Linked DNA regions of Homo sapiens. The protein of the gene in region 3 purifies or fractionates together with the protein of the main gene of each other region. This does not show direct contact. Each region holds a gene or a part of one and is shown on either strand. Other genes may lie near its edges. The genes, in order: RO60, CARS1 and GART.

Region 1 (3,651 bases), on a different chromosome or scaffold from region 3:
CTATTTCTAGAAAATATTACACACTTGTCTTATGTTAAATAAAAATTTGCTATTTATTGAATATCCCTTACCCACCCTTCTTCCCAATGAAGATCTTATGCTTACCTTCACTGGAAGGTTTAAGATGTGACAATCTTAATAGATCTTTGTGAGACCAGCCATTTCTCTGTTTATATTTTGTAACTGCCAGAGCAAGGGCCATGCCACCTTTCTCATTGTACCAGTCCGCTATAGCCTTCCGGAGGGCACGACCCCACATGCCACATTTCATGCTTTCCTTCAGATCTTTCTTAAACTGGATAAAAGTAAAGAGATGGGTAGGAATGCGACAAACTTCAGAAACAGCTTTAAATGCTGCTTGTTTTGTGCTTATGTCGGAGCACTGGGAACAAATGGCAAGTGCAAAGAGCATAGGCTCTTGCTTTGTGGTTCTGCCTTCTTGACTAAATGACTTTATTTCTTGTATCACTTCACATCCTCTGCCATCTTCAATCAATCTAATTAAAGCTTCAGCATTTTCAAGGCCCAACTTCTGTTCTTTGATATAATAAGTCCCACCTTCAGAACCGAAACATAAGAACCGGTGTAGTCGATTCATGTCAGTGACTTGCCATACATATCCATCCTGAGAATTGGCTATCTGCTTCTCATTCAGTGGCTGCATTTGGTTTACAGATTCCTCCATTTTTTTTTGTCTTTAGGAAACCTAACAAAAAGGCAAAATGTTATTACAACTAGATGGGCACAATAAAATTACAAAAGGAAAACAAAATGTAGGTTTACTGAAATGTTATTAACTCTTTTAATTTAAAAACATCTTTTAAGTTCCATAGTTTTTCCCTTAGTACAAAATCAATATAAATGTCCTGAAGAAAAATCAGGAAAGGCAGAAAATGAAAGAAAAAAACCATATCTGAATACTTTGAAATGACTACCAGTAATATCTTCAGTTTTTAAAGTGTTTTTGTTTTGTATTCCTATTTTTATAATCTAAAGAAACTAAAAGCCCTTCACAGCAAACAAACAAATCATAGCCACAGTGGTGTGATAATCAGAAGCAACTAAGGCGTCACATTTTTGAGATACAGTGTGCTCCTTCAGAGATTAAGCAGGTAGATCAGTATGGCATCTTGAGGCCCACACAGAGAATAAAAGAAGGGAGGGCAGCAATAGTAGCTGGCACTAAGTAAGAAAGATCATACTCCCTGAAGAATTGTGTAAACATGTTTGGTTGCCTATCTAACATTCATTCTTCCCCCTTCTCTCTTCTCCTCTTCTTGGCCTCATATCCTTCAAAGGAGGCTAGGCCTTTCCCTAGCCCCAAGGGATGGATCTTTATTGCTCTAAGCCAGTGGTTCTCAAACTCAATGTACATCAAAATTACTTGAATTACTAATTGAAACATAGATTGGTGGGTCAGCCCTCTCAGGCACTGCCCTGAGTTTCTTTCATAATTTAGTAGGTCTGCAGTGAGGCCTAAGCATGTATACTTATCACAAGTTCCCAGCTGCTGCTGCTGCTTGACCCAGGCCCAATAATCATGGTGCTCTCCTTGCCACATGACTGGTATAGGGAGTTGGGCATGTGTCATGACTGGCCAGTATGACATGATAAGTCAGCTGAGAACACTTTTGAGGTTTTCTTCAGTCTTAAAAGGGGGCTCAGGCTCTTAAAAAGAAATGTTCCCTTTTCTGCCTTCTGACATTTTCATTTGCAAGTGATGCCTGGAGTGGTAACAACCATCTTCAGACCTTGAGATAAGCCAGTTTAAGATGGCACACCAATATATAAAGAGAGCAGAACAGAAAAAACAAAGAACCTGGGTCCTTGATATCGGGTTACCTGAAACTGCCCTGCTTATACACTTCCTATTATGTCATAAATGTATCCTTATTGTTTAAGCCATTTTTAGGTTTACGGTTTTATGTCATCTGTAACTACCCTCACTCTACTCCTTCCATTAGCTCTAAAACTCCTAGAACTAGCTGTCTGGAAACAACATCCCTCTTTATCCTTCTAATGGAGGAACCACAATTGTCACTTCTTCATCAGTCCACCACTATTGTTACTACAGTATCACTGTTTATTGAGGTCCTTCAATCTGTCATGTTATTTCGGTGCACTGGGCTTCTGTCCATGGCTAACAAAACAGCACAACCAACAAAAACTTAAACCAGCATTTACTGAATACATACTATGTGTAAGACATGAAGACAATTTCTCTCCCATTAAAGAGACTAAAAAAAAAAAATTTGGGCCGGGCACAGTGGCTCACGCCTGTAATCCCAGCACTTTGGGAGGCCGAGACGGGCGGATCACGAGGTCAGATCAAGACCATTCTGACTAAAATGGTGAAACCCCGTCTCTACTAAAAATACAAAAAATTAGCCGGGCGTGTTGGCAGGCGCTGTAGTCCCAGCTACTCAGGAGGGAGGCTGAGGCAGGAGAATGGCGTGAACCCGGGAGGCGGAGCTTGCAGTGAGCCAAGATCCTGCCACTGCACTCCAGCCTGGGGGACAGAGCGAGACTCTGTCTCAAAAAAAAAAAAAAAAAAAGAAAGAAAAAAAATTTTTTTTTCTCCTCATCACAGGAAAATCACACTCATTTGTGGGGATAGAATCACAATGCAAACTGTAGTTAAGTGCTGTAGTAGAAAAGTATTATGAGTGAGCAAGGGAGTATAAAATAATATTGTCTCAATAATCCAGAAAGATTTGTGCAGAGAAGGCAAATTGTGATTAAGTGCTGTAGTGGAAAAGTGAGTGAGCAAGGAAGTATAAAATAATACTGTCTAAATAATCCAGAAGGATTTGAGCAGAGAAGGCAAACTAAAAAACTGATAAAGTTTAGGGAAGGCGCTCCAGGAAGAGGTTTCTGAAATCTCGATCTGTCTTTATATTCTAGAAAAGAAACTGTCTAAGCATCCTGTAGAGCCATAAAGACATGTTGACAGATACGGTCATAACTTAAAGAGGAACACAAGATAAAAGAAGTTTTGTTCTGAAGATCATGCTTACTTGAACATGTTTATATATTACAAGGAAGGCTAAGGATAGAATCTTGGTGAATATTAACCATTAAAAGCTAATGAGAGAAAGGCCTTTTAAAGAGAGACGGAAAAGGAGGTGCACAGAGTTGAAGAAAACCGACAGAGAATAGTATCATGGACTACAAGGAAGAGAACTTCAAGGAGTGAATGGTTGGTAATTTCAAATGGTCAGAGGAAAAGTAAATAAAAGGCTAGAAAATGACCACTGGGTTTAGCAAGTAGGAGTGACTAGTGAGAGCAACTGCAGTAGAGTGGTATAAGAAGTAGCTTGATTACAGTGAGATCAGGAGAATATGCAGTGAGGAAGAAACTTCACAGCTAGACTACTCTTTTGTAGACACATACTTATAAACTATGAAGGAAAGTAAAAGAGGATGGGACTTAGAGAAAAAATCTTTTTACCTTTTTCAATGGGAAGATGCTAACATTGAAAGATTCAATTTGGAGAGCTGAAGATACAGTAGAGAAGGGGGATAACTGAAGGAATTTCTTAAAGAAATGAGAATGAGCTTAGAGCATCCAGGTTGAGACTGGCCTACTGACAGCAAGAGATATTTCCTTTATCTTTTAAGGGTAAAGAGTATAGGTAAAGATAGATTTGA
Region 2 (3,651 bases), on a different chromosome or scaffold from region 3:
CGCTACAATCTTATGGAAGAAATAAAGAGAAAGAACTGAGTCAACCAGAGCCAGGCACAGCCTTAGCTAAAAATCACAAGGCTAGGGCCCGTGGCCTGGGCATGCTACGTGGAACCCCAGAGCCGCAGCGGCTCTGCACCCCACCACCTCAGGCAATCCTGCCACACCAGTGATGTGAACATACTGCTCCTGAATAACCAACTCCATAGGGCGTGATTTTATCCCAACCTCCATCCAGCAAGCGCTGCATCTGCCCATCCAGGCCACTTGCTCGAGACACACTTGGGCGAGGCTCCCTCTGGGGTATCCGCAGACGCCAGGTAAGCACCAGGGTGATGGAGAAAGCCCTTGACCTTGGGAGAGAGGTTCTAATGGCCAGGGAACCCACTCTGTTACTCACTTGCTTGGAGCCTGCAGGGCTGGCCTTTGCCACAGGGGCTACCCAGGAGCGCTTCTATGTGCCTGAACCACCGAGCCACGTGGAAGAGCTGGGGGTCAGCGGGCGGGGCCGAGAGCTGCCTGAACGCGTCCACGTCTGCCTGGGACAGTGAGTACCCCTGGACATAGCTACGCGTGCTGAGGTGCTCGTTCAGGGCTTGTGCCCTGGCTGCCTCGTCACTAATGCTCAGAATGGACCTGTAGTCAGGAGCTGCAAAGACAGAGGGCACATGGTGTCAGGCAGGCAGGCGGGCAGCCCAGAGGCCGCCAGAAAGACAGGGACTAGGGGATGGCACAGAACCAAGGAAAAAGGTGTTCAAGCCCTTCCCTGGACGCCAAACATCCAGAACAGGCAAAGGCACAGGGGCAGCGCTTCGACTGGGGGCGAGGGAGTGACTGCCTGACAGGTATGGATGGGTTCCCTCTTGGGTGATGAAAATGCTTTGGAACTAGACAGAAATGAAGGCTGCATGACAACATCATGCGCCAAATACCACAGAATTGTGTACTTTTCACTTTATGTCATATAAATTACTTAGTTTTTACATTTTTAATTTATGTTTTCTATCAGGGAAAGCAGGAACACAGTTCCACACCATCACAAATTACACAGTTCAGTTTCTGACATTTGGGGAAATCATAGGGGTCAGCACATCTGGAGTATAACGGATAAGCCTCGCCTTGGGAAAGCTACCTACATGATCATGGTATCCCTCCTGTCAGCTAAGTATGTTACGAGAATTTAACCTCAATTTTTAAAAACTCACAACAGAAATCCCCCAAACCAAACCAACTTCAAGCCTCTTTGCCGCAGCGGCACCCTCTCCCTCTGGGTGCTGGGGGATGAGGGGTAGGAGAACCCCACATTGACAATGTGTGCCATTTACACCCCTGCACCAAGAGACAGCTGGACTCTAGCATGGCTTCTGCAGGTCAAGGCCACAGCCTCAGGAGGACTGGGCCCCCTCAAAGGACCAGCCCAAGAAAGCACAGGGCTGCCAGGAAAATGTGGCTGCTCCAGCCAGCCTCACCTGGCCCCTGGCCCCTGGCCCCAGGCCCCAGCCTCCCTCCTTAGAGCCTTCAAAGCAGTAAGCGTGCACCTCCACCACTCAGGTGTGTCACTCAAGGACCCAAGAGCCACTGTTCCGCATGTCACCATTGGGAGGAGGAGCAGAACCCTAACTTTCACCACTGCCAGCTGTAGACAAGGCCGCCTTGACACATGCACGCTGACCAGCTCCATGGCTTTTTTCATTTGAGCCCCTGCTCACCCTCCTTCTCCTCCTCCATTCTCCCTTTTTTATTTTTATTTATTTATTTATTTATTTATTTTTATTTTTTAGAGACAGCGTCTGACTCTACTGCCCAGGCTGGAGTGCAGTGGTGCAATCAAGGCTCATCACAGCCTCAAAATGCTGGGCTCAAGTGACCCTCCAGCCTAAGCCTCCTGAGTAGCTGGGACTACAGGCACATGCCACCAGGCCCAGCTAATCATACTCCCTTTAAATCCAAAAGTCACCTCTGCTGAACTGGCAGGGAACGCAGCTCCTTCCCCTACTGTCAGGAATTAGGGAATAAAATCTGTCTCACCATTCTAAGGAATATCTCCCTGCAATTACCTCTGACACGGGAGTTGTGGACCAGGTGCTGTGTCCACAGCCCACGTCCCTAAAGTGGGGGCAGACCAGGCAGATGGTGCCAGGCTTCTGGCCAGAGGAGGGAGTCTGGTCCCTGAGCCCATGAGCACAGGTGCATCCAAACCTTGAACCAGTGATTGTGTTTGCTGAGAGGACTGTGGGAAAAGGACCGATGCTTGCTCCTTCCAGACAGATACCCTCTCACCCCAGAGTTCACTCAGGGTAGGAATGCACATGTCTGGCCACCCCTTGCTGTGCCAGCTGCCCTTCCTGGGCACAGGCTGCCCGACATCACAGCCATGGGGCGTGGATGCCCTGCACATCACAGTCCCCCTCTCTGCCTTCTCCCATTCCCTTTTGTCCCCCATCTCCGTGTTTACTCCTGGCACAGAGCCAGAGTCACCCCAACCAAGCCCACACAGCTTCTGAAAACAGAGAGCAGAGTGTGTTGCGGGGGTAACTGCACACGAATGCCTTTCTCTGCTTTGCTTAGTGTGGGGAAAGCCCTTCGTGTCAGGCCAATAACTGGCACTTCCCGGAACGCTGTGGTGTCAGCAAAGATGAGTCAGAATGGAGTGCACAGCTGCAGCAGCAAGAATGCCCCACTGGGCCGAGCTCTTCACCCGCCAGGGAGCCTACGGAGCCACGTGATGCCCCAAGGCCCAGCCTCCGTGGCTGCCGGAGAAGATGTCCTGAAGCCACCTCTTCTCTGCAGTAAAGGGGTGGGCACTCTGTGGGAGAGCCTTCCTGAAGTCTCAACATGGATGCAGGGCTTAAAATGGCTTCCTGGGATGACTCTCGCTGGTGGGATGACGAGTGCAGCGTCCCTCTAACTTGCCCTGCTTCCTTCCCACTGCACGGAGCCACTGTCCCATCTGACCCCAATAAGATGGCCACCCACTCCAAGCAGCCACAGGCACCCAGAAGCAAAGCTCTGGGCACACTCCCTAGCCAAAACTGGAATCACACCCCTTTACAAGTTATCCTTAGGAGCACCCATAGCCAACCCACGGGAGGATCCGGGGCCTCTAACTCAAAAGAAGCTTTGGACTTGAGAGCCAGCCCTTGTCACCTGGATTCCTGCAAGCCAGACACCGCCACCTGTAGCCAGCATGGCTCTCCCCTCACAGCCACAGGCCTCCAGCGGCCCTGCTGAAAAGCGCACGTTCACATTACTGCCCCCAACACCCACCTCGCCAGCAGCACAAGCCTGTCCTCATGCTGGCCATGGGCCCCCACCTGACTCACAATACCCTAGTCACATGGCCCCTCCACCTGCTGCTCTTTTTTTAGGGGGCATGCTCCCCAGATACCAGCAGGCCCCTTAATCCTTCACAGCTCTGCTAGGTGCCGGCTTCCCCACCAGGTCTTCAAGGACTCCCTGTCCATATGGCGCCCGCCTCTAGACCCTGAGCCTGGCTGCTCTTTCTCTCCGCAGCACCCCTGTCTAACACGTGCCCGCATTTCTTTCCTTCACCATCTGCCCCACCGCTCCATCTACCTTATTCACTGCTCGATCTTCAGCATCTACAACTGAGCGTGTGACATTCCAGATATCAGCTAAAGTTGCCTAGGG
Region 3 (3,651 bases):
CTGGGGTGGGTGCTGTCATGTTACATCTGTGTAAAGATAGTTGCCATAGCGATGGCTGCACTAAAAGGTGGGCAGAAAGCTTGTGAGGCAAGGCTGAGGTATAGCTAAAATTATACAGCTAAAATTATATATCTAAAAATGAGTAAGGAGCAAGTACCTTCAGCTCGTGCAACCACACTGCCAATCACCCAGGCTTCTTCCTTGTGCTGCTGGATATCCCTCAGAATCTGCTCTGTCTGCTCCTTTGATACCACAAGGACAGCGCCAACCCCACAGTTAAATGTTCTGGCCATCTCTTCCTCAGAGAGGTGTCCTTCCTGCTGCAACCATGAGAAGACCCTGGGGATCCTCCAGGTCTGGGCATCTGAAAAAAATAGACACGAATTGTTTGATTTTCCTACCTTCTCACACAAAGTACAAAAGTATGCACATATTCAAAGATGTGGAAATTATAATCAGGCTCTGCTATTTTATGTAGGGTAAAACTATAAATTGGCCTCTGAGAACTTTTTATTTGGGGATCCATTTGTACCTTAGACATTAAGAACATTTTTTTGTTGACACACTTGGCCAGTACTCACAAATGAGTGAGGTTTTGTGCTACATTAACTAACTAGACCCTTAGACATTCCCTAATGGATCAGATGAGCTAGTAGCTGAATTCCAGCAAAGGCCAGTATACCATCCTTTTGTGAATGTTTGGCTGAGTCTTTGTGATGACCAAAATGCACCCAAAGTACAATGCAAAACTAGATGGCTTATCTACATATTTAGAGAAAATGCATACACTCCTCAAGAAAAGTTATGTTAATGGAAGGCGGATCAACACCCTCTCCCTCTCATTCTTTTTAAAATTTAGACTTCCTAGGTCTGCTATAAGAATACATTCTCTCGGCCGGGCGTGAGAATCCCAACACTTTGGATTACATGCCTGTAATCCCAACACTTTGAGAGGCTGAGGTGGGCGGATCACGAGGTCAGGAGATCGAGACCACCCTGGCCAAGATGGTGAAACCCATTCTCTACTAAAAATACAATAATTAGCTGGGCGTGGTGGCGCACACCTGTAGTCCCAGCTACTCGGGAGGCTGAGGCAGGAGAATCACTTAAACCTGGGAGGTGGAGGTTGCAGTGGGCCGAGATGGTACCACTGCACTCTAGCCTGGTGGACAGAGTGAGACTCCGACTCAAATTGAAAAAAAAAAAAAAAAAAAAAAGAATACATTCTCTCTTATCACAAATAATACAACAAAAATCTCTAATAAAAATTTTTAGGTAAAGGTCTATATACACACACACAACATTTCTGAATTTAAAAAGAATCTGGATAGTTCTTTGGAATCTACGATTATGGGATCTGATTTTTTAAAAAAACTATACTGAATTAAATTATTTATGATGCTCTTAAGAAAGGGAAGCCAATGTGAACTCAGCTTTTTATTAAATAATAAGGTTTACTATCAGTTCTGCCTATTTATTTGATTTATTTATTGGATAATTTTTTTTTTCTTTGAGACAGGATCTGGCTCTGTTGCCCAGGCTGGAGTGCAGTGGCATGAACACGGCTCACTGTAGCCTTGATGTCCCAGGCTCAAGTGATCTTCTCACTTCATCCTCCTGAGTAGCTGGGACTACAGGCATGCGACACCATGCCTGGCTATTTAAAAAATTTTTTTTTTGGAGAGACAGGGTCTTACCATGTTGCCCAGTCTAGTTTTGACCTCCTGGGCTTCTTCTGCCTCAGCCTCCCAAAGCGCTGGGATTATAGGCATGAGCCATCATGCTCAGCTGATAATCAGTTTTTTAATACTTTGGAGTTGATACAATTTTTTTTTTTTTGAGACAGAGTATCTCTCTGTCGTTTAGGCTGGAGTGCAATGGCGTGATCTCGACTCACTGCAACCTCCGCCTCCTGGGTTCAAGCTATTCTCATGCCTCAGCCTCCCGAGTAGCTGGGATTATAGGCATGTGCTACCACACTTGGTTATTTGTGTGTGTGTGTGTGTGTCTCTGTGTGTGTGTGTGTGTGTGTGTGTGTGTGTGTATTTTTAGTAGAGACAGGGTTTCATCATGCTGGCCAGGCTGGTCTTGAACTCCTGACCTCAGGGGATCCATCCACCTCAGCCTCCCGAAGTGCTGGAATTACAGGGGTGAGCCACCATGCCCAGCCTGAAGTTGATACAATTTTAAAAATGAGGCGGGTGCAGTGGCTCAGGCCTGTAATCTCAGCACTTTAGGAGGCCGAGGCCCGCAGATCACGAAGTCAGGAGTTCGACACCAGCCTGGCCAACATGATGAAACCCCATCTCTACTGAAAATACAAAAATTAGCTGGGCGTGGAGACGCACATCTGTAATCCCAGCTACTCGGGAGGCTGAGGCAGGAGAATCACTTGAACCCGGGAGGTGGAGGTTGCAGTGAGCTGAGATCGCACTACTGTACTCCAGCCTGGGCGACAGGGTGAGACTCTGTCTAAAAAAATAAAAATAAATAAAAATAAAAATGAATCACATGTCTATGACTCTTAGATTCAATTCCATTTATAGTAGCTGGGAAATGTCCATTCTTAATAGTTGACCTCAGATTTAGTAACTACATTGTTCACTATGCTCTCAATAGTTAAAAGTAAATAGCAACTTAAAACTAAATAGTGGTACATCTGTAAAATGGAATACTTGTTATCAAAAATGATGCTACTAAGACAAGGAGATAGTGATGACATATTTAATGGCAGGGCAAGTAGCAGATTACCAAATTATGATCTTGTTTTAGTGAAGTTTTACAAAATATTTATAGGAAAAAACACTGGCAGACTAAGAGTCTAGCTTCTATAAATGAACAAGTACTTCATGAATAATGTAAGTTGTAATTTTAATGTTGAAAAGTCCTGGCCAGGTGTGGTAGCTCATGCCAGTAATCCCAGCGCTTTGGGAGGCTGAGATGGGCAGATTGCTCTGAGCCAAGGAGTTTAAGATCAGCCTGGGCAATGTGGTGAAACCCCGTCTCTACTAAAAATACAAAAAATAGCTAAGTGTGGTGGCGTGTTACCTGTGGTCCCAGCTACTTAGGAGGCTGAGGTCGGAGAATCACTTGAACCCAGGACGTTGGGGCAATAGTGAGCTGTGATCGCACCACGGAACTCCAGTTGGGGCGACAGAGTGATACTCTGTCTCAATAAAAAACAAACAAAAAAACCCCCAGAAGTCCTTACTTAAATCTGTTGTCAAAGTATGATTCCTGGAAGAAACTTTAGAGGCTGATGCAAGGAATTGTGCAATGGCTTTTATTGGAATACAGACATTTGTGTAACTCAAACTATAACTGCTTTCAGGAATATGGCTATATCACTTTCAGTTTCTTAATGAGGTGACTACTATGTTGTTTTTAACTAGTGGTGTGCTAGAGCCAGCTTGTAGAGACTGTTAAACAGCCATTTTTAAAGCAGCTATGATGGGAGTATTTATACCACAAAAACTGGCAAATGCACAAATCAGTCCTGCCTCCTTTCCCCATTCATCAGCAGGCCACTGTTTTTTAACTATTTGAAAAGGATGATGAATGAACTACTTATTAAGGTTCTTATATATGCTCACCAGAAAGCATTTCTACCCAAGGAATGTCTTGAACCACTAGTTTCACCCTCCTATGAAT

What was found.
Region 1: the proteins of GART (region 3) and RO60 fractionate together in Homo sapiens (co-fractionation; one large-scale study listed by BioGRID). This does not show direct contact.
Region 2: the proteins of GART (region 3) and CARS1 fractionate together in Homo sapiens (co-fractionation; one large-scale study listed by BioGRID). This does not show direct contact.

Annotation. Positions count from the first base shown.
Region 1 is NC_000001.11:193,066,089-193,069,739, reverse strand, and holds part of RO60 (RNA-binding protein RO60), read right to left. Parts: intron 707-3,651; 5' UTR 686-706; coding exon 106-685; intron 1-105. UniProt on the Homo sapiens protein: RNA-binding protein that binds to misfolded non-coding RNAs, pre-5S rRNA, and several small cytoplasmic RNA molecules known as Y RNAs.
Region 2 is NC_000011.10:3,047,353-3,051,003, forward strand, and holds part of CARS1 (cysteine--tRNA ligase, cytoplasmic), read right to left. Parts: intron 650-3,651; coding exon 401-649; intron 1-400. UniProt on the Homo sapiens protein: Catalyzes the ATP-dependent ligation of cysteine to tRNA(Cys).
Region 3 is NC_000021.9:33,511,095-33,514,745, forward strand, and holds part of GART (trifunctional purine biosynthetic protein adenosine-3), read right to left. Parts: intron 365-3,651; coding exon 158-364; intron 1-157. UniProt on the Homo sapiens protein: Trifunctional enzyme that catalyzes three distinct reactions as part of the 'de novo' inosine monophosphate biosynthetic pathway.